Linked DNA regions of Homo sapiens: region 2 is linked to region 1. The links come from fine-mapping of genetic effects on plasma protein levels. A gene starts in region 1. The other region holds a variant in brackets. All regions are shown on one strand. Distances are from middle to middle.

Region 1 (10,019 bases):
TAGATCCATGCACTGACATGGAAAAATATTCTAAAATATTGAGTGAATGTATTAGTTTGTTTTCACACTGCTGATAAAGACATACCAGAGACTGGGTGATTTACAAAAGAAAGAGGTTTAATGGACTCACAGTTCCACGTGGTTGGGGAGGCCTCACAGTCATGGTGGAAGGAGAAAGGCACATTTCACATGGTGGCAGACAAGAGAAGAATGAGAGCCAAGTGAAAGTGGTTTCCCCTTATAAAACCATCAGATCTCGTGAGACTTATTCTCTACCACGAGAACAGTATGGGGGAAACTGCCCCCATGATTCCGTTATCTCGTACTGGGTTCCTCCCACAACATGAGGGAATTATGGGAGCTACAGTTCAAGATGAGATTTGGGTGGGGACACAGCCAAACCACATCAGTGAATAAGTCAGTTTCAAAACAGTATATACCTAAGAACATCTCTGAAAGAGAACTGTGGCAGTGTGCAGCTGTGCCCCTCAGTGCTCCCTTCAAGAGAGCGTAGATGACTGACAGCCTTCAGACACTGCCCCTTCAGATCTGTGGAAGATTCACACACCCCAGGCTGCTCCCACCCAATGGCTGCAGCTGGAAGCAACTCCTTCCCACCTTCCTTCCTCCCCATCTCCTTCCACAGGCATCACACCTGCACTGGGTCTGAAGGCTCTGTGCCTACAGTTACTCCCTTTCCCCTTACAAGTCCTTCCCCCAGTAAATCTCTTGCACATGTGTTTCTGGCTTGCTCTCTTCTACTTGAGGGATCCAAACCAGCCCCAAAGACACACCCACTTACTAAGTTATAAATTTAGAGCTGAGATGGAGGGAGGGAGGTGGGCAGAATAAGAGAAATTATAGATAACTCACTTTAAGTTATACAGTTCTGCAACATAAAGCATTCCTTAAAACGTGTGTGTGTGCATGTTTTAAACATATTAAGCTCAGTCTTGTGCAAGTGGCAATTTCCTTATTTCCACACTTGAAACCATATATCCCAACATGATTAAACTAGTTGACAGTGTTTGTGTTTCCAGTCCAACCCATGGTATTGAACAGACTTGAAAAAGGTTGGCAGTTTTTACCTACTGGATCAGCCTGGGAGGATGCCGTGTTTTTCTGTACAGAAAATGTAACCTCTTAGGTTCTGAGAGAGTGTAGATACTTTAATGATCTATTTCCAAATGCAAAAAGTAACCAGTGTCCTGAGTAGAAAAATCATACTACCATCCCCGGCTGACAGACAGACACACTGAAGTATATATATGAAGTAAATTTGCTCAAAATCCCCCATTAGGGAGATTGAAAGTAGAAAGAGGTGACCAAGAAATACCACGGTGTATGAAAAATTTACTCACAAGAAAGCGTAACTTCTGTTGATGCACATCTTCTCAAAAGCTGGCATTACACATGAACAATGAAACCTCAATCACTCTTTTCTGAGAATTATTTTGTCTTACATTTTTCCAAGTGTTCTTTATGTCTTACATTTTTCTATTTGCAGAAGCCACTTACAATTGTGCTTTTCTTTAGTTGACATTAAATGTCATATTCAGGCTGCATATATTTTATATGACTGTCTTCATCTTAAGTCAACAGTTTAAAATAATCCAGATAGTTAATTGCCTCAATGACTCTAGATCTAAGAACAGAGCTAGGTATTCTATTTAGCGATCTCACCAACCCTCTTTCTTTTAACAAAAATAAAGGAAGAGAGGGAGAGAAGAAGGAAGAAAGGAAAACAACTATAATTTAGTTCTTTAGCATGTAATTTTAAAAGAAATCAATTTAAAAATGCTTTCAATCATATTCATTACAAATAGGAAGTACTATCACTAGCAGCATAAATTTAAATAGTTGTACAAGACTGTACACCCAAATGTGGACAAAGGACCAGCAGTATTGACATCACCTGGTAGCTTGTCAGAAATGCAAAATCTCAGGCCAGACCTTAGACCTCTTGAATCTGCATTTAAATAATATCCTCAGGTGATTCATATGCACATTCAAGTTTGAGAAACACTACTATATTTAAAATATATGATATATTTTTGTCTCTTAGGATACTACCAATAAATAAAGGAAATATTTACTGGTTCCTATTACCAATAGGGCACTCTGCAAAACCATGAGTAGGATATAAATATGAAAAAGATCCCAGCTAGCATGTATAAGATACTAACTCTCTACAAGGTGCTTTGCTAAGTGACGTACATGCATTTATTAATTGAATCCTCACAACAGCGCTAAGAAAAGGATTATATTATTATTCCCATTCACAGAGGAGGAAATTAAGGATAAGAAAGTTGACAAGTAATTTATCCAAACTGACCCAGTTAATCTGATGTGTAGCCAATATTTGAAATCAGATAAGTCATTAACCAAAGTTCACATGACACAGTTTCCTTAAAGCTTGGAGCTCATACCAAAGTGGACATTAAAGCATTAAAAATTGCTAACAATTATAAACTCAATAAAATCTTAATTAAAAATAGGATTTTATTAAACTTGACAGGCTATTTGTAAAGAGAAAATGTATGTGATTTATAAAAAAAGTTGTTTTAAAAAGCACAAATATATACCACAAGATTTTCAAAAACACTATAAAGCTACAGTAGTTAACTCAGAGTAATATTGGTTTAGGGAAAAACAAACAAAAAAAAAGATCAATGAAACAGAATAGAATCCTGACACAGACCCTTTTACAAACAGGAATTTATTTAATGATAAAAACAGAATTTCAAATGAGTTGGAAAAAAGATGAATTATTAAATAAATGCTATTGGATCAGCTGTCTAAAACTTTACAAAAATATTAAGTTACATCGTTACCTTCCACTTCGTATCTATCAAGTGGAAAAAGGGGCAAACCCTTTGACACAGGAATACCTCTCCTCAGATTCTCTTCCACAGAAATACTCACACTTGAGCAGGAAGATGAATGTGTGATCTGCTCTGAAGCAACGTTGCTAATGCTGAATGTCCATCAATATAGGAAAGGATGGATAAATTACATTCTATTTCTACTTTAGGATAACATGTAGCTGGCCGGGCGCAGTGGCTCACGCCTGTAATCCTAGCACTGTGGGAGGCCAAGGCAGGTGGACTGCTTGAACCCAGGAGTTCAAGACCAGTCTGGGCATCATGGAGAGACCCAATCTTTACAAAAAATACAAAAAAAAAAAAGTCAGGTGTGGTGTCATGTGCCTGTAGTTCCAGCTTCTCAGGAGGCTGAGGTGGGAGGATCACTTGAGCCCAGAAGGTCGAGGCTGCAGTGAGCCATGATCATGACACTGCACTTCTGCCTGTGTGACAGAGTGAGACCATCTCACACACACACAAAAAGAATAACACGTAGCCATTAACAAAAGAGGTATCTAGAGACAATGGAAAGATCTCTAAGACTTGGAAAGTGAAAAAGCAAGCTGTACAATAAGTATAGTAAGATAATTTGCATATTTAAAACATATGTATATGTATGTATTATGTAAAACTATAGAAAAGAAAAACAAGCCTTAGAATGGTATTATCAAACTTAACCTTCCCTCTTCTGAGTGGGAGGAGGGAGGATGGTGATGGCACGTCTACATTTCACTTCACTTCTATATTGAGTGAGAATGAGTTGTTATTATTTGTATTATTTTTAAAACACAAAAATAGAATACAACGTGGAGTGCACAAATGCAGAGCGACCAGTACAACTAAAATGAGGAGGGAAGGAAGGCTATGAAGCCACCAACACAGCTGTTGGAAAAGAAATTCTCTCTTCATGTAGCTACAAAGAAGCCTGCTTGGAGGAGGGGATTTCTCCAGCAAGGCCATGATATTCTATTTGTTTTGGTTTGGGTTTTTTTCCCCCCATTTTACACATTTTTTAAGCAATCAAGAAGGATTTTCTCCCCCAGCGAAAGGAGGGCCAAGGCTCACAGTTCCTGTAAGTGAGCAAGACCACACTCACTAAGATTCTCTTCTACTGCAGCCAATGAATGCCCCAGTCCTTTCCCACAAGGAAAATACACACCTTCTTCTTGTTAAATACAGTACCACTGATTCCCCTTTGAAAACCGTAACAGTTCTCCTGATTCGGTTTTGTCCTCAGGACAAAAGGGTTACAAAAACATGAGAGATCCAGGAACACCTCTGCATGTGTTCCTGGTCTGTTCAGGTTAAAGAAAAGGGTAGAGGGGGAAAGAACCAGTGTTTATGTGTTCTCCCCAATGCGGCTCGGGTCCCTGCGGAAGAAACACCCAAGACCAGCCTTTTTCTCTCAAAGCCACCTTTGATACAAAAGGCTTAGCCACACCTGCTGGGACAAACGGGAACTGGGACCAAGATGTAAGTCACAAGGAGGCAATTTACAGCAGAGAACTAGCTCTTCCTACAATAAAATGTGAGGTGGTGAGCTTCCTGCCACTGGAGGCACTGAACAAATGCTACGGGGAAAACAAACTGAGTATTTCCTGAAGATTCTGAATAGAAGGCTGTGTTTGGAGTTTGATGCTTTGAAAGCTCAAGAAATGATTCTCAGACACAGCGGAGTTTGGGGACATCAAGGGCTCTGAGTGCATTTTAAAGCAGCCCAGGAGAGAGACAAAGCAAGACCATAATGAAACACCCCACCCAGTCTTAGAGTTTGAGCTACAGCACGGTGATCATGAGCAGACTCCAAACCCAAATCCTGATACTGTCACCTGCTAGCTGTGTAACCCTAGAAAAGTTACAAAACCTCTTTGGGCCTCAGTTTCCTCAATAAAATATAATAAAAAACTAGTACCCGCCTCACCCGTGAAGCTTAAATGAGCTAGCATATGTCAAGTGCTTAGAATAGGGGCTGGTTCACAGTAAGTATGAACCATTATTATTTGCAGACAAGGAAACTAAGAGGTGATAAGTAGTTTGACCCATGTTCCAAAGTCAGTTTTAATCTTGGGAATAAAACCTAAAAATTTCTTTCTCCTCCATCAGAATTCCTTCTAGCTCAAACTAAGTATCCTACATTCAATTCTATCTTCTCTGCCTTCATAGACCCTTCCATTTACTTCTCTTGAATATCTTGTTCCCAAAGTGTTTTCAAGGCAGGTCTGTTACCAAGCCACTCCATCAGCAGCACCTAGCACTGTGCCTCCCGCAGCAAGGCAGGCAGGATGGATGGACGGATGCAGGCATGCATGGGTAGGTGGATGAAGGGCAGATGAAGAACTATCGAGAAAGGAATCGCGGTGTCAGGGGTAAAGCCCTGGCCTGCGAGAGCCGGGCTCGGATTTCAGTGCCCTCACAGCTAGCCATATGGCCTTGGACAAGTTACTGAACCCCTCCGTGCCTAGGTTTCCAGAATGTAGAGGGCCACTTCCACTCAAGTGGCTGGAGAAGAAGGTAAGCGCCCCGGACGGACGCTATTGCAGAGTCGCCCGGGGATTCCTCTCTCCACCTGTGCTTGAGCTCCTCCCGCTTCTACGCTAGGGACCAGGTGGGAGAGATACACGGATTCCCAGAAAAATGGCTCTCTCAGGTGGGAGTCAAGGGTTACGAGAGGAGAGGTAGGGGAAGCAATGAACTCCTCCACACGATGTGTTGGGAGAGAGGAAAGAGGGATTCAAGTGGGAATTTTCCACTCAACAAACATTCCACCATCATTTGAGAAAAAGGCGCTGGGATGGTGAATTTCAAACAGTCTGAGAAATGGGCGACTCGGCACTGTGCGGCCTGTAAGGAATGAATCATTTAGTTTTCACCCACCAGGTAGGCAGGCCGGGGGCGAGGACCCTCCGAGCGCCGTCCGAGCGCAGGTGGTAGCCCAGCCAAGCAAACGCTGGGCAGAGGCGGCACCGAGGAGGGGAACGGGCTGCTGCACTCCCGGTCGCGTCCAGCCGGGATGGGCTGCGAAGTTGTCGGATTCTTTCCCGCACAGCACGGGGCTCGCCCGTCGGAAAAGCCACCGAGGGCGGCGCAGCGGCAGGGCGCGAGCAGAGCGGGGACGGGCGGGTCGGGGGTACTCACGCCGCGGGCGAAGGGCTCCACGAGCCGGGCCGAGTCCTCGGCGGCGCGTGGGGCGCGGGTGCGGGCTCCGGGGCGGACGTGCAGAGGCGGCCCGGGCCGGGGCTATGAATCAGCTGCGGGGCAAGCGCGGAGGGGCGGGAGTTACTGGAAAACCGCGGGGGAGGGCAGAGGGGTGAGGTCTTTTGCAATTTCCCGTCTTGCTGCGCACTCTTGGCACTCCTGGGACCCACAGGAATTCCCTCCCTTCAGTCCCGGGGGGAGGCGGCCGCGATCCTGGGGGAGGCGCAGCCTCACAACCCGGACTTTGCGGGCGGGCGGGCACTGGTGAGAAGAGGAAGTGGGAGAGGCCTGGGAAGGAAACTTGGAAACCGAAAACTCGGCGGCCGAGGCTCCGTGCCCCGCGCGCAGCGCTGCTCCTGCCCCGGCCAAGGACGCACGGGCCAGCCGGCGGAACCAGAGGTAAGCCGAGTGACCGATGAGGCCTGGGGCTGTGTATCCCACAGGGGCACTTGTCATCCCAACCCAGAGGCCAAACCCGTGAGATCCCCGTCCGAAAATCTTCAGGCAAGAGAAGTCCTTTAACTAAATTTTGGCCGTGTTTCCATTTGGCGTCCAGAGCAACGAAAACGTGTTTGAACCGAATCAAACGGTCCCCATTTTTCCCCTACTCGCGTTCTATCCAGAAACGCCCTGTCCGACAAAGTTTCTTCGGCTACAACAGTCCCGAAACCTTTATTTCCCAATGCTACGACATGCTACACATGGTTTACTTTTCCCCTTAAAAATGCCATCCAATCTTCAACCTTTTTTTTTTTTTTTTTTTGAGACGGCATCTCACTGTGTCACCCAGGCTGGAGTGCAGTGGCGCGATCTCGGCTCACTGTAAGCTCCGCCTCCCGGGTTCACACCATTCTCCTGCCTCAGCCTCCCTAGTAGCTGGGACTACAGACGACCGCCACCACGCCTGGCTAATTTTTCTATGTTTAGTAGAGACGGGGTTTCACCGTGTTAGCCAGGATGGTCTCGATCTCCTGACCTCGTGATCCGCCCGCCTCAGCCTCCCAAAGTGCTGGGATTACAGGCGTCAGCCACTGCGCCCGGCCAAAAATGCCATCCAATCTTTACCGTGTCTGGGCCTTTGAAAGGTGCATTTCACCTCTCTTAGAGGATAACAGGAGCCTTCCGAGGCAGCCTCGGACCGGGAGCTCCCATAGCCTCGCCTGTCTGGATGCCTGACAAATCAGCAGGCAAGGGGCCTTGCTCCAGATCAGCTGAGCCTAGTTTGGTTTGAGTTTGGGGACCCTGGAAAGTATCACAAAAGCAAGGTTGTAGGAGGGGGGTGGGGGAGGGAACCAAGAGTGATCAACAAGTATCGACCATAAACATATCTTAGAATCCTATATTGAATTGACTGGATGACTCAAAATAATGTCAGAATTATTTTAAAATGTTACTTTTGTGTTTGTTCACATATCTGGCTCCTCCCCAATGTCATCCCAAGGAAAGCTGAGAGTCCTTTTGTTTTTTTATTTTTCCTAAAACAAAGGCCTAAAGGCCCTAATACACTTAATACCTAATGGGGCCACAAAGACCATGATGCATAGTAAATATTTGATGATAATAAAATGTATTTTTGTCTCAATAAATGTATGGTCCTTTGCCACACCTCTCATTACTTGAAGAGTTTTAAAGAGTCCATTAGTTTAGCCATCTGCATGGTTATGGAAACTGCCAAGCCCAAGAGTTGGAAAGTCTTTATGATTTTATATTTTACTGAGAAAAAAAATTATTCTTTATAGAAACAGTTAAAAGGGATCTCTCTTCTAGCAAATGAGATGTCAAATAAAAATATTCAGCCCAGTATGAATTTCTAAAAAGTGAGGCTTATTTTGGGCTCCTATTGCAATTGAAGGAGACTGAAGTGTAAAAATTTGGTGCCCACATATAATTTATCTGTTTTTGCACCATTCTAATTTCTTAAATTTATACGTTATTCTAGAATCTAGATGCAGTAGCACCATATAAATTCGCGATTATACCCTTAACAGTGGGTGCACTGGGTCCATAAAGTCAGATCCACCCAAAACCTCCAAATATCAGTTTATTTGGAAATAATGTTTTTGCAGCTTTAATCAAGTTAACCTGAGGTCATATAAGATTAATCCAGTGTCTGCTGTACTTCTGAAAAGGGGGGAATTTGGACACAGACACCCAGAAAGAACACTGTGTGACCACTGAGACAGATCCTGCTTATGCTGACTCAAGCCAAGGAATGGCAAGGTTGCTGACCACCACCAGAAGCTAGGAGAGAGGAACGGAACAGGCTCCCTTTGAACCCCTAAGAAGAAGCTAGCCCTGCCAACATCTTCATTTCAGACTTCTGGCCTCCAGATTGAGAATACATTTCTGTTGTTTTAAGCCACCAAGTTTGTGGTAATGTGTTATGGCAGCCTTAGGAAACTGATACATAGGTTATGTTCCATAAGTTAGTTTTAAACAATTATCCTGAAAATAACTAATAGGAAAAAGATGAAAAATACCAATGGCTTATTAAGCTAAGAGCTAAAATATCCATCCTTGCTTAGTTTTGATAAGATTGTGTGGCCAAGGCACATATTATTCTGCTTCGTTAAACACTCTTTTTATTTTTTTATTTGTGTGTGTGTTTTTATTTTTAATTTATTTATTTATTTATTTATTTAGAGACGGAGTCTTGCTCTGTCACACAGGCTGGAGTGCAGTGGCACGATCTCAGCTCACTGCATGCTCCGCCTCCTGGGTTCACACCATTCTGCCTCAGCCTCCCGAGGAGCTGGAACTACAGGCGCCGGCTACCACGCCCAGCTAATTTTTTTGTATTTTTAGTAGAGACTGGGTTTCACCGTGTTAGCCAGGGTGGCCTCAATCTCCTGACCTCGTGATCCTCCTGCCTTGGCCTCCCAAAGTGCTGGGATTACAGGCGTGAGCCACCGCGCCCGGCCCATTAAACACTCTTTCTTGACGTTCTCTCTTCCTTTTGATTTCAGTAGCAATACTCTCTCCATTCTTCTTTCATTTCCCTGACTTCCTCCTCCCTCATATTTTTGGACTTCTTGTTCTCCACTTGCCCCCTACATGTTGGTGTTTCCCAGGGCCCCAGGGCCCCCTGAATAATCATATTCACATCCAGGATTTCAATGATCACTTGTGCCTTGATGGCTCTCAGCTCTTCCTTTCCATTGCAATGATTTCATCTGCACTCCAGACAGTACTTTGAAATTAGTATGCCCGAATTCAAACTTCAGTTATGCTCACTTGATTTTATTATACTAAGTGAATGGTCCAGCCTTTAACCTTTACTAAGTTAATGGGCCAGCCTTCATTTAGTGTCCTCTGGACACTGAAGTTAAAACCCTGGGAATGATTCTCGATCCATCCTCTTTCATCTTCCATCTTCCATCAGAAAGTCTCATATGTATAACTATTATGGAGGAGGGATTAGTGGAATGTATTGCCAACCTATCTAACTTCTCAGAGGAAAAATAGTTCTATAACTGTCAGGAACATTATATTTGTCTATATCTCTATATCTATGTTTACATACATCTATGAAATCAGCTATGTAAATTGTGAAATATAATTATGATTCTATTTATTCCACTACTGTAAATAGCTATAATTACAAGATGGCAGCATTTTGTTACCAACTGATGGAATTTGAAGGTATCGGGGATTTTGTGAAGAAAGTGACTTCATCACCTAAGCAGTGGATAATGGTTTACAATTACCCTCATCGACAAGTTCTGTAGAATTCTGTTTTGTTGGCATATTATCACATTTGACTCTTTTTAAATGAGACAGGGTCTGTGTCACCCAGGCTGGAATGCAGTGGTGCAGTCTCGGCTCGCTGCAACCTCCGCCTCCTGGGCTCAAGCAATCCTCCCACCTCAGTCCTCCAAGCAGCTGGGACTACAGGCACGCGCCACCATGCTTGGCTAATTTTTGTATGTTTTATAGAGACAGGGTTTTGCCATGTTCTCC
Region 2 (8,000 bases), 34 kb before region 1:
TCACTTTTCAGGGGTCACCTCATCTTGGCCCCTTCTCCTTCCTGCCCTTGTGATTTTCTGAGATGTCATGGGCATGGATGGTCCATGTTATGCAAGTGGCTGATGCTATGTCCATTTGACAAGGGTTGTATCCCCAGTGCCTGCCAATGTTTCATTTCGGGTGCTGTGGCTCACAGAATGCTTCGGGGATGCAAGGAAATCAGTCAGATTTGTACACCTGCTAAATTCAACAGGCAGGAGCTGAGTGTTCAGGGAATGGCAAAGCACCTCCAAATCCCCAGCGTTACTGCTGCCCTTAGTGGTCATGCTAAGGGGACATAGATGAACCAGGCATCCAGGAGACTGGAGACTGACTTTGGCAAGGGAGGCAGGGAGGGAGATGTTCCCTACTGTGCAAGGGAAGGAGATGCTCAAAATACAGGAGGCCACTAGTTGTGCACACACAAACCTATATAAAAAAATGTTCCCACTCCACTAATGTATCCGATGGAACCAATTTACTGCACAGTTAAGAACAGTAATGGCCTCCATTTGCTGATCTCCTACTGCATGCAGCTATTACTGGGGCTAGGCACTACCCACATTCATTAATCCTCACAATCACCATCACTGTCCCCATTTTACAAAGGAGGAAACTGGCTCAGAGAGGCTAGGAAACTTGGCGAGATGACACACCCAGCCAGGGAAAGAAGATTCAAACCCAGGTCTCCTAGGCCACAATCCTGGCTGACTCCATGGTTGTCCAATCTGTAGCTCCTACCCTCCCTCCATGATCCCGAAGTAATTCCAGCATGGCTGGGCAAAAAAGGGTATTTTCCCAGTGGTCCAGGTCATGACCTGAACTGTGTCTTCTTTAATACTATTGATTTCTAGGAATACAACTCTCAGTAAGGACAAGAAAACAACAGGAAATCCTGGAAATATTACTAAAGGACATCGACTTCAGAGCCTCTCCTAGAAAACTTGGGAAACAAAAGAAAATCAAGATCATGGGTAGAAATGTTTATTTGTCTTCTAGTAAAGGAGATTTAATCTATTCCTCAGGAAATGAGAAGAAAGGGCCACAGAGAATTTGCACACTTACTTGAGACAAAAAGAACGATGCCTTTCATGCCTTCACTGACATTTCCTTGACTTGCCTCACAATAGATATTTGTCCCTTTATTCCTAATGAAAGGCACACTATTCAAGTTGAATGCAGTTACATGTGGATCAAGTTGTTCTCCATGAATCTGTTTCCCTTCCAAATAACAGGATACATTATTTTGAATGTTCCTAGAAACGTAACAAATGGTAACATTGGTGCCTTCTTCCACCAGCTTATCTTTAGGGAAAACGAACAATATATCCTGTCCAGTAGAATCTTGTACTGCAAGAAAAAAAAATAGCCAAGTTAGAATCGCACTCAAAATTCAAGCCTCTTAAAACAAGTTATCCATTTGCCTTCAGCAGATAACTTTAGCTTTTTCTACCTCCTGGAGAAAATAGCAACCTAAATTTCTCTGCCAAACCTCTACCCTCTGGTGCATGCAAGACAATCCTTTCCACCACTGCTCCTATTGTTACACTGATACCACTGCTGTTGCTCTTACTGCCACAGACAGCACATTACTATTACCACTCTGATAATTGCATGATTGCTATTGCTGGGTTATTGTAACTGCTTTCTATCAAGTCCCAGCCCTGCTGAAGGCCATGTTAAGTGTTTATGTACATTATCTCATGTCGTTCTTAGTACCTTACAACAACAGGTCAGGTAAGACTTAGCCAAAGTTTGCTCAGTTAGAAAGTGGCAAAGCCACATTCAGACTGGCAAGGTCTATGCATCTCCAAAATCCCTCGTAATCTCTTCATTGTACTGGAGATCATATCTCTCCCTACCTTCTCAGAAATGCGAGTCCCTCAAGTGTGAGGGGTCTTTAAAACATTCATTTTTAAAAGTTTTTAAAAAATCCAACCTTCAAGCAATTCTTGTGCCTCAGCCTCCTGAGTAGCTGGGACTACAGGCATGTGCCACCACACCCAGCTGATTTTTTGTATTTTTAGTAGAGCTGGGGCTTCGCCATGTTGTGCAGGCTGGTCTCAAACTCCTGAGCTCAGGCAATCCGCCCACCTCAGCCTCCCAAAGTACTAGAATTACAGATGTGAGCCACCACACCCAACCTCTTACTATCTTTTTAATATCTTTTCTTTCCCTGTGTATGTGTCCTTCTTTCCATAGTAGGATGTAATAGTTAAGCACATGACCTCTGGAGCCAGACTGTCTGGGTTGGAGTTCCAGCTCCAGCACTTAGTGGCGTGGTGACCTTGCATGGCTTCTTTAACCTCTCAGTGCCTCAGTTTCCTTATCTGTGAAGCGAGGATAAGAAGTCCTTTTATAGGACTGACATGAGAACTAAATATGTATAGTACTTTAAAAAGTGACTAGGTCATAGATTTAATTCAATTATTATTATCTCATTAGTATTATTAGTTTAACGTGCGCAAATAATCTCATTTTTCAAATAACACACCACTTTCATTTTTCCATATTCCACCCCCCTTCCCCCCACCCCGCCGTCTAGATTCGGGGGAGCTACAATTTGAGTCCACCATCTGTTGTTTTTTTGGTGTGTGTGTGAGAGACAGAATCTTGCCCTGTGGCCCAGGCTGGAGTACAGTGGTGTAATCTAGGCTCACTGCAACCTCTGCCTCCTGGGTTCAAGCGATTCTCCTGCCTCAGCCTCCAGAATAGCTGGGACTACAGGTGCCCGTCACCATGCCCAGCTAATTTTTATATTTTTAGTAGAGACAGGATTTCACCATGTTTCCCAGGCTGGTCTTGAACTCCTGACCTCAAGTGATCCACCCGCCTTGGCCTCCCAAAGTGCTGAGATTACAGGAGTGAGCCACCATGCCTGGCCCTGTTTCTGTAAATAAATTTCTATCAACAAAGCTGTCTCATTGGTTTACACACTATCTATGGCTGCTCTCACACTACAGTAGCAGAGTTGAATAGTCACAACAGCGACTGTATGCTCTGAAAAGCTTATACTATCTCTTATCTGGCCTTTCACAGAAAAATGTTCCCAACCTCTACTCTAGACGCATACACATTTTGTGTTGCTCAAATAAATACATATGTACAATTTATGTCTTGCTTTGTTCACTTAGCATTTATAATACACAAACTTTACATGTTTTGAAAACAAATACAAAATTGCCTGAATCTGCACAACTATCTCAATGAGTAAGTTCAGGAGCAAGACTTCAGACTATATCTTCCAGTGCCAAGTTTCACACCTGTGTTTTTTAGTTCCCATAGGAGCCAAAGGAAAATAATGTCAGTGTCTACCCAGGGTTCCTCAAAGGAGATTTCCACTATTTGACTATTGCTCCTCATTAAAAAATATATTAACCCTTTTCACTCTTGTAACCACCTCACTTCTTACCACTGACTTCCTCCCAGGAACTCCAGTTGCTCCAGAAATTTGGCTCAGGGAACTTGGCATCGTCCACCAAACTCTTTATTCTTACAAAGTGTGTGGCACATTCCAAAGGGAGCTCAGATTCCCAGCTCCAATGCAGAACCTGGTTCCACTTCACAGTGGTGCTGTAATTCCCCTAAAAGCAAAGAGAAAACAATTGGAGACACATAGCCATCTTGTCCTATAAAATAGCT[T/G]GACTTGACTTATCCCAAAGCACAAACCTAAGACCCCATTGCAGGTCCACGATATGTGCCAGTGAATTCCACTTCTGCTAGTCAATTCCCCATGTTCTGATGCCTCGCATGGGAGCCAGCTATGACCTCCTGCCTTTTGAAAACTCAGCTTCCAATCACTATGGTCTTCCAATTCCCGGGGACTCATGTGGAATAAGCGGGAGAGAAAACAGAAGCTACTCAGGTCTTGGGGGAACAGATCAGAGACAGAAGGTGCTCACTGTGCCAGTCCCAGAGAATCTGCTAAGAAAGTTCTTGAAAAGTAGAGAATTAACACAGTCATCCTTTAAAAAAAAAAAAAGATTGTTTGTTTTTAAAAAATATTCATCTTTAGCAAGGTTTGGATTAGGATGGTCAAATCTCAGTCAAGAAAGCAGTCTTTCATGGCACACCAGAAGTTCCATTTTCTCTCGGAAGTTGATAGATGGCTCTCTGAGTCTCCCCTGGTTTTCTGTCTCTTGTCCTTTCAGATACGGTGGCCACATGGCCACACTCCATCTCTTGGGCTCCATCTGTCAGACTCTTAGGCCCTGAAGCTGTCAGTGACACAAAATGTCTTACACTGTTTTCTAGGAAGCTTGTCTAAGTTGAGCTGTAATTTGGGCTTTTGACACAGCCTTTAGCCTTCATCTTTCTGAGATGCTGGCATTTCCATTCTCTAATTCCACAGGCTTCAAAGGCCCGTTTACACCTTGCCCTGTCATGCAAGGCCTTCTATAATCTGGCTCCAACCCACCAGTCCCTTGCAGGAATCGTCTCTCCAAACATAGCACCTCCCCCACACTTCTGGATATGCCTTATGCTTTCAGACCTGTCTTTGCTCAGGCAATGTCTTTGGTTTGGTGTCTTCCACTCCCTGCTGTATGGGGATCTGTCCTGTTCTTCAAGCCTAGGTTATGTCCCTTCTCTTTCATGAAGGCTTTCTTGCTCTTTCCTCTGCATTCCTCTTGTCTCCACCCCTTCTGAGCCCCTCCTATATACTGCGGCTAGCTGTTGGTATATCAGCTGTGACTCTAGCATGGTCCCGAGGGAGCAGGAACCACGTTCTCTTCTTCATGTCCCCCAAAGCTCCAGGCATGCTTTCTCCTCAGTGTGCCTCCTCCAACGCTCCTGTTTCCTGCCCCACAGCTGCAAGGTGGAGACAACACACACATGACACTTACTGGGGGAACCTGAGTTCGAGTCTGCATCCATGTTTCTAAGGGCGAATAATAAGTCCTCAGTGAAGGGGATGGGACAAGTCACATGTCACACACTGCTTGGCGTTAGCAACTCGGATGCCTTCTACTAATTATGTCTGCCCCCTATTCAGGTCACAAACTTGAAACAGTGCCCCTGACAGAATTAAACCCAGCCCTGGGCTGAAAACATCCTGGTCCACCCAGGGGGCATTTAATTGTGGGCTTCCTTTCTCACTCTCTGCAGACTGTGTTTTTTTAAATGTTTATATTTTATTTCCATTTCTTGCATTACTTTACTCCTAGATCACAAAATATGTTCCTTAACAAGTTGTGAGGTCCTGATCCATGAAACCCTCACTATTTAACATGAGCAATGTCAAGTACATTTTGCTTAAATATTTTTAAAATTTAAGAGCAAATATCCCAGGACTTTGGGAGGCCAAGGCAGGCAGATCATGAGGTCAGGAGTTTGAGACCGGTCTGACCAACATGGTGAAACCCCATTTCTACTAAAAATACAAAAATTAGCCGGATGTGGTAGTGCGTGCCTGTAATCCCAGCAACTCAAGATGCTGAGGCAGAAGAATCGCTAGAACCCGGAAGACGGAGGTTGCAGTGAGCTGGGATTGCGCCACTGCACTCCACCCTGGGCAACAGAGTGAGACTCCATCTCAAAAAAAAAAAAAAAAAAAGGAGCAAATATTTCCTCTCTTCCCCCAGACCCCTGCTAGAAGGAAGTACATCAATAATGGCAACTTCGCTCTAATGCCAACAAGTCACAGACTGAACTTTACCTCCCTTCTGTCCCTTAAATGCAGCCACTTCTCTTACCCGCATCTCCGCTTTGGCTGAACCCTACAGCTCGCTTCCTAGCGGCCACACATCCCTTGCCCCAGTTCCCCACCACATTCCGCTGTGCGGCTATTCAAATCAGAGCTTGCCACTTCCTTTGTTCTTATTGCCCTTGGGATAAAAAAACAAAACCTGAGCATGCACTCCATGGTCCTGTGCATCTAGGCCTGTGCCCCTGTCCTCATGTGCTTGGGGATCCAGCACCACAGCGGGCTTTCAGGCCTGGAAATTCCCTTCTCTCAGCGCCTCTGCTCATGCCTGTTGGGCCTGCTCAGAGCACTCTTTTCTACTCTACTTGCTAAAGTAACTTCTATCCTCTTGGATATTTGGTCTCAAACAGCCCTTTATCCAAATTGTGGGAGAAGGTGAGGCCTAACCCGAACCTCATAGCATCTCATCAGTGACCTGCACACACAGCCCGTGTGTAGAATACCCTATGCGTGTGTTCACCTCCTCATTCTTTCCAGTGTGCTCAGCGCTGACATTCCCACACTGCGCACAATGCCTGATCTGGGAGCACAGGCTAAAACTCTGGACTGAATGATTTAATCATTTCATTAATATGCAATGAGTTGTATTTCCCCCAGACACTATTTATGTGTGGAACCTGTTTAACCTCAACTTCTGCTTTGTGGTCTTTACAGCCCTGTTAATGTAGGAGATAAAACTTTTCCTTAAGTACTGCAATTCATTGATTTTTTTTCTTTAAATATGATGAATTGTCTTTGGGTCATTTCATTTATTGAAGTGGCAGGTTTAATTTGATCCTTGCAGACATCAGTAAGTCACAAGAAATTGGCACACACATTTACACAGAAGTCTAATAGAGGTCACTGATTTGTTACTGAGACATTTGACTCCCACACCTGGCCTCCTTCCAAGCTTGAGCTCTTACTCTACTTTGCCTTCCTATGCCATTGACAAAATCAAAAAGCAAAGGGAAGGGGAGGACCATGACCCAGGAGGGCAGGACCATGCAGTTCAGGGTTCCAAATGGCCAGTACCATCCAGGAGACAGGTCGGTGCCTCTGGTCCAGCTGCAAGTGCTCTTCCTTTGACTTGTTTGGGAACAGAGGTGTCCGAGACATTGAGTCCAGAAGCTTCCCCCCAGCCCCCAGCATGAATGAGAGTGCCCTGTCAGGCTTGCACTACAGGGAGCTTCCCTGTATAAGGGAGATTTTGGTCTAAACAGAAGCAGCATCCTCCTCCTTAACTGGAGGAGGATAGTTCTCGTCAACTTCAGGCATGAGTGATTCAGACAAGCATTTCTCAAGGCATCATCTATTCCATAGGACATGTGTCCACCGATGGCCTGGGGGCTGCATGTGACTGTCATCCCTTTCTGGGCACAGGAGTGAAGGATGATCCCACCCTGCCTCTGTCACCTGGAGCAACACAACAAACCTCTCTGTGCTGTGGTTTCTCCACTGTTGTAGTCAGGCTGGGTTGGGTGTTGTGAGGACAACACGATAGACAAGGCAAAACTCTACCCTGAAGGGTCTTGAGCCCTAGAAGATTACAGAAATAGTCCACACTAGCTGCTTTCCCTTGAAAAGAGGACTCTTACGGGAATCAAATATGAAAACAGATATGAACAACTGCTTTTTAGGAAAATAAATAAAAAAATCCACTTGGTGTATGGCTAATATTATTTTTTGTAACATAATAATAGATATGAGTTGTCTTTTGGAAAAATAAAGAATAGGATCCATGTAGTCTATGGTTAATGTTATTTTTGCTAACGGTGCTAAGTGCTAGTTTTCCACAATTCCTCCAGCACTTCCACCTCAATTTTTCTTTTTGTAGATAATCCTTAGTCTCAATATGACCTTTGCTTCAATGTTTTACCGGGCCCAAATTACCAACAAGTGTACCCATTAAAAATACAAAAATCAGACTTGCTAGTATAAGGTGAGATAGTGGAAAGATGTGTTGATAGCAGGGAGTAAACAGCTACACAGAAGTATTGCTGTTGTTGAAAATCATCATACTAAATAAGTCTCATTGTGGGAAACTGCCCTTTGAGAGGTAGAATTATAGACTAGGTATGAATCCTAAGTGGACAGAGTCAAAATTTTATTTAACTTGCGCAGATCTCAAATTTCAATAATGAATATGGAAAGTAACTGAAGATGTTAAAATTAGTGACTTGTATGCCTTACCAAAGGAACTAACCATGCTGTATGTGTGTACCCAAAGCCTCCACTACCTGGGTGAAGACAGGAGCCTGGTTGAGCTGACAGAGGGCCCAAGCACAGTCCTAGGCT

Alleles and levels. Positions count from the first base shown, and alleles are read on the strand shown. Strength reflects both the effect of a copy and how common the allele is.
In carriers of allele T in region 2, the plasma level of the protein whose gene starts at base 6,114 in region 1 tends to be lower than with G alone (moderate association).

What was found. PIP is the chance, under the fine-mapping model, that this variant and not a neighbour inherited with it causes the effect. Protein levels are from antibody-based Olink assays in UK Biobank. Linkage for the fine-mapping came from a reference panel and not from the study's own genotypes, which makes the PIPs less certain.
Region 2: its variant is fine-mapped to the plasma level of the OSMR protein (UK Biobank, PIP above 0.99).

What each region holds. Positions count from the first base shown.
Region 1 is chr5:38,842,107-38,852,125 of GRCh38, reverse strand. It overlaps OSMR (oncostatin M receptor), which reads right to left and starts at 6,114. Exons shown (of 18, transcript NM_003999.3): 1 at 5,739-6,114. It overlaps OSMR-DT (OSMR divergent transcript), which reads left to right and starts at 6,297. Exons shown (of 4, transcript NR_109951.1): 1 at 6,297-6,458.
Region 2 is chr5:38,877,196-38,885,195 of GRCh38, reverse strand. OSMR (oncostatin M receptor) reads right to left here. Exons shown (of 18, transcript NM_003999.3): 4 at 3,432-3,603; 5 at 1,085-1,369. Among named protein-coding and RNA genes, the nearest start is that of OSMR, 35 kb to the right of the region's middle. RefSeq lists enhancers at 5,460-5,959, 5,960-6,461. The variant T/G (reference allele first, on the strand shown) is at 3,662.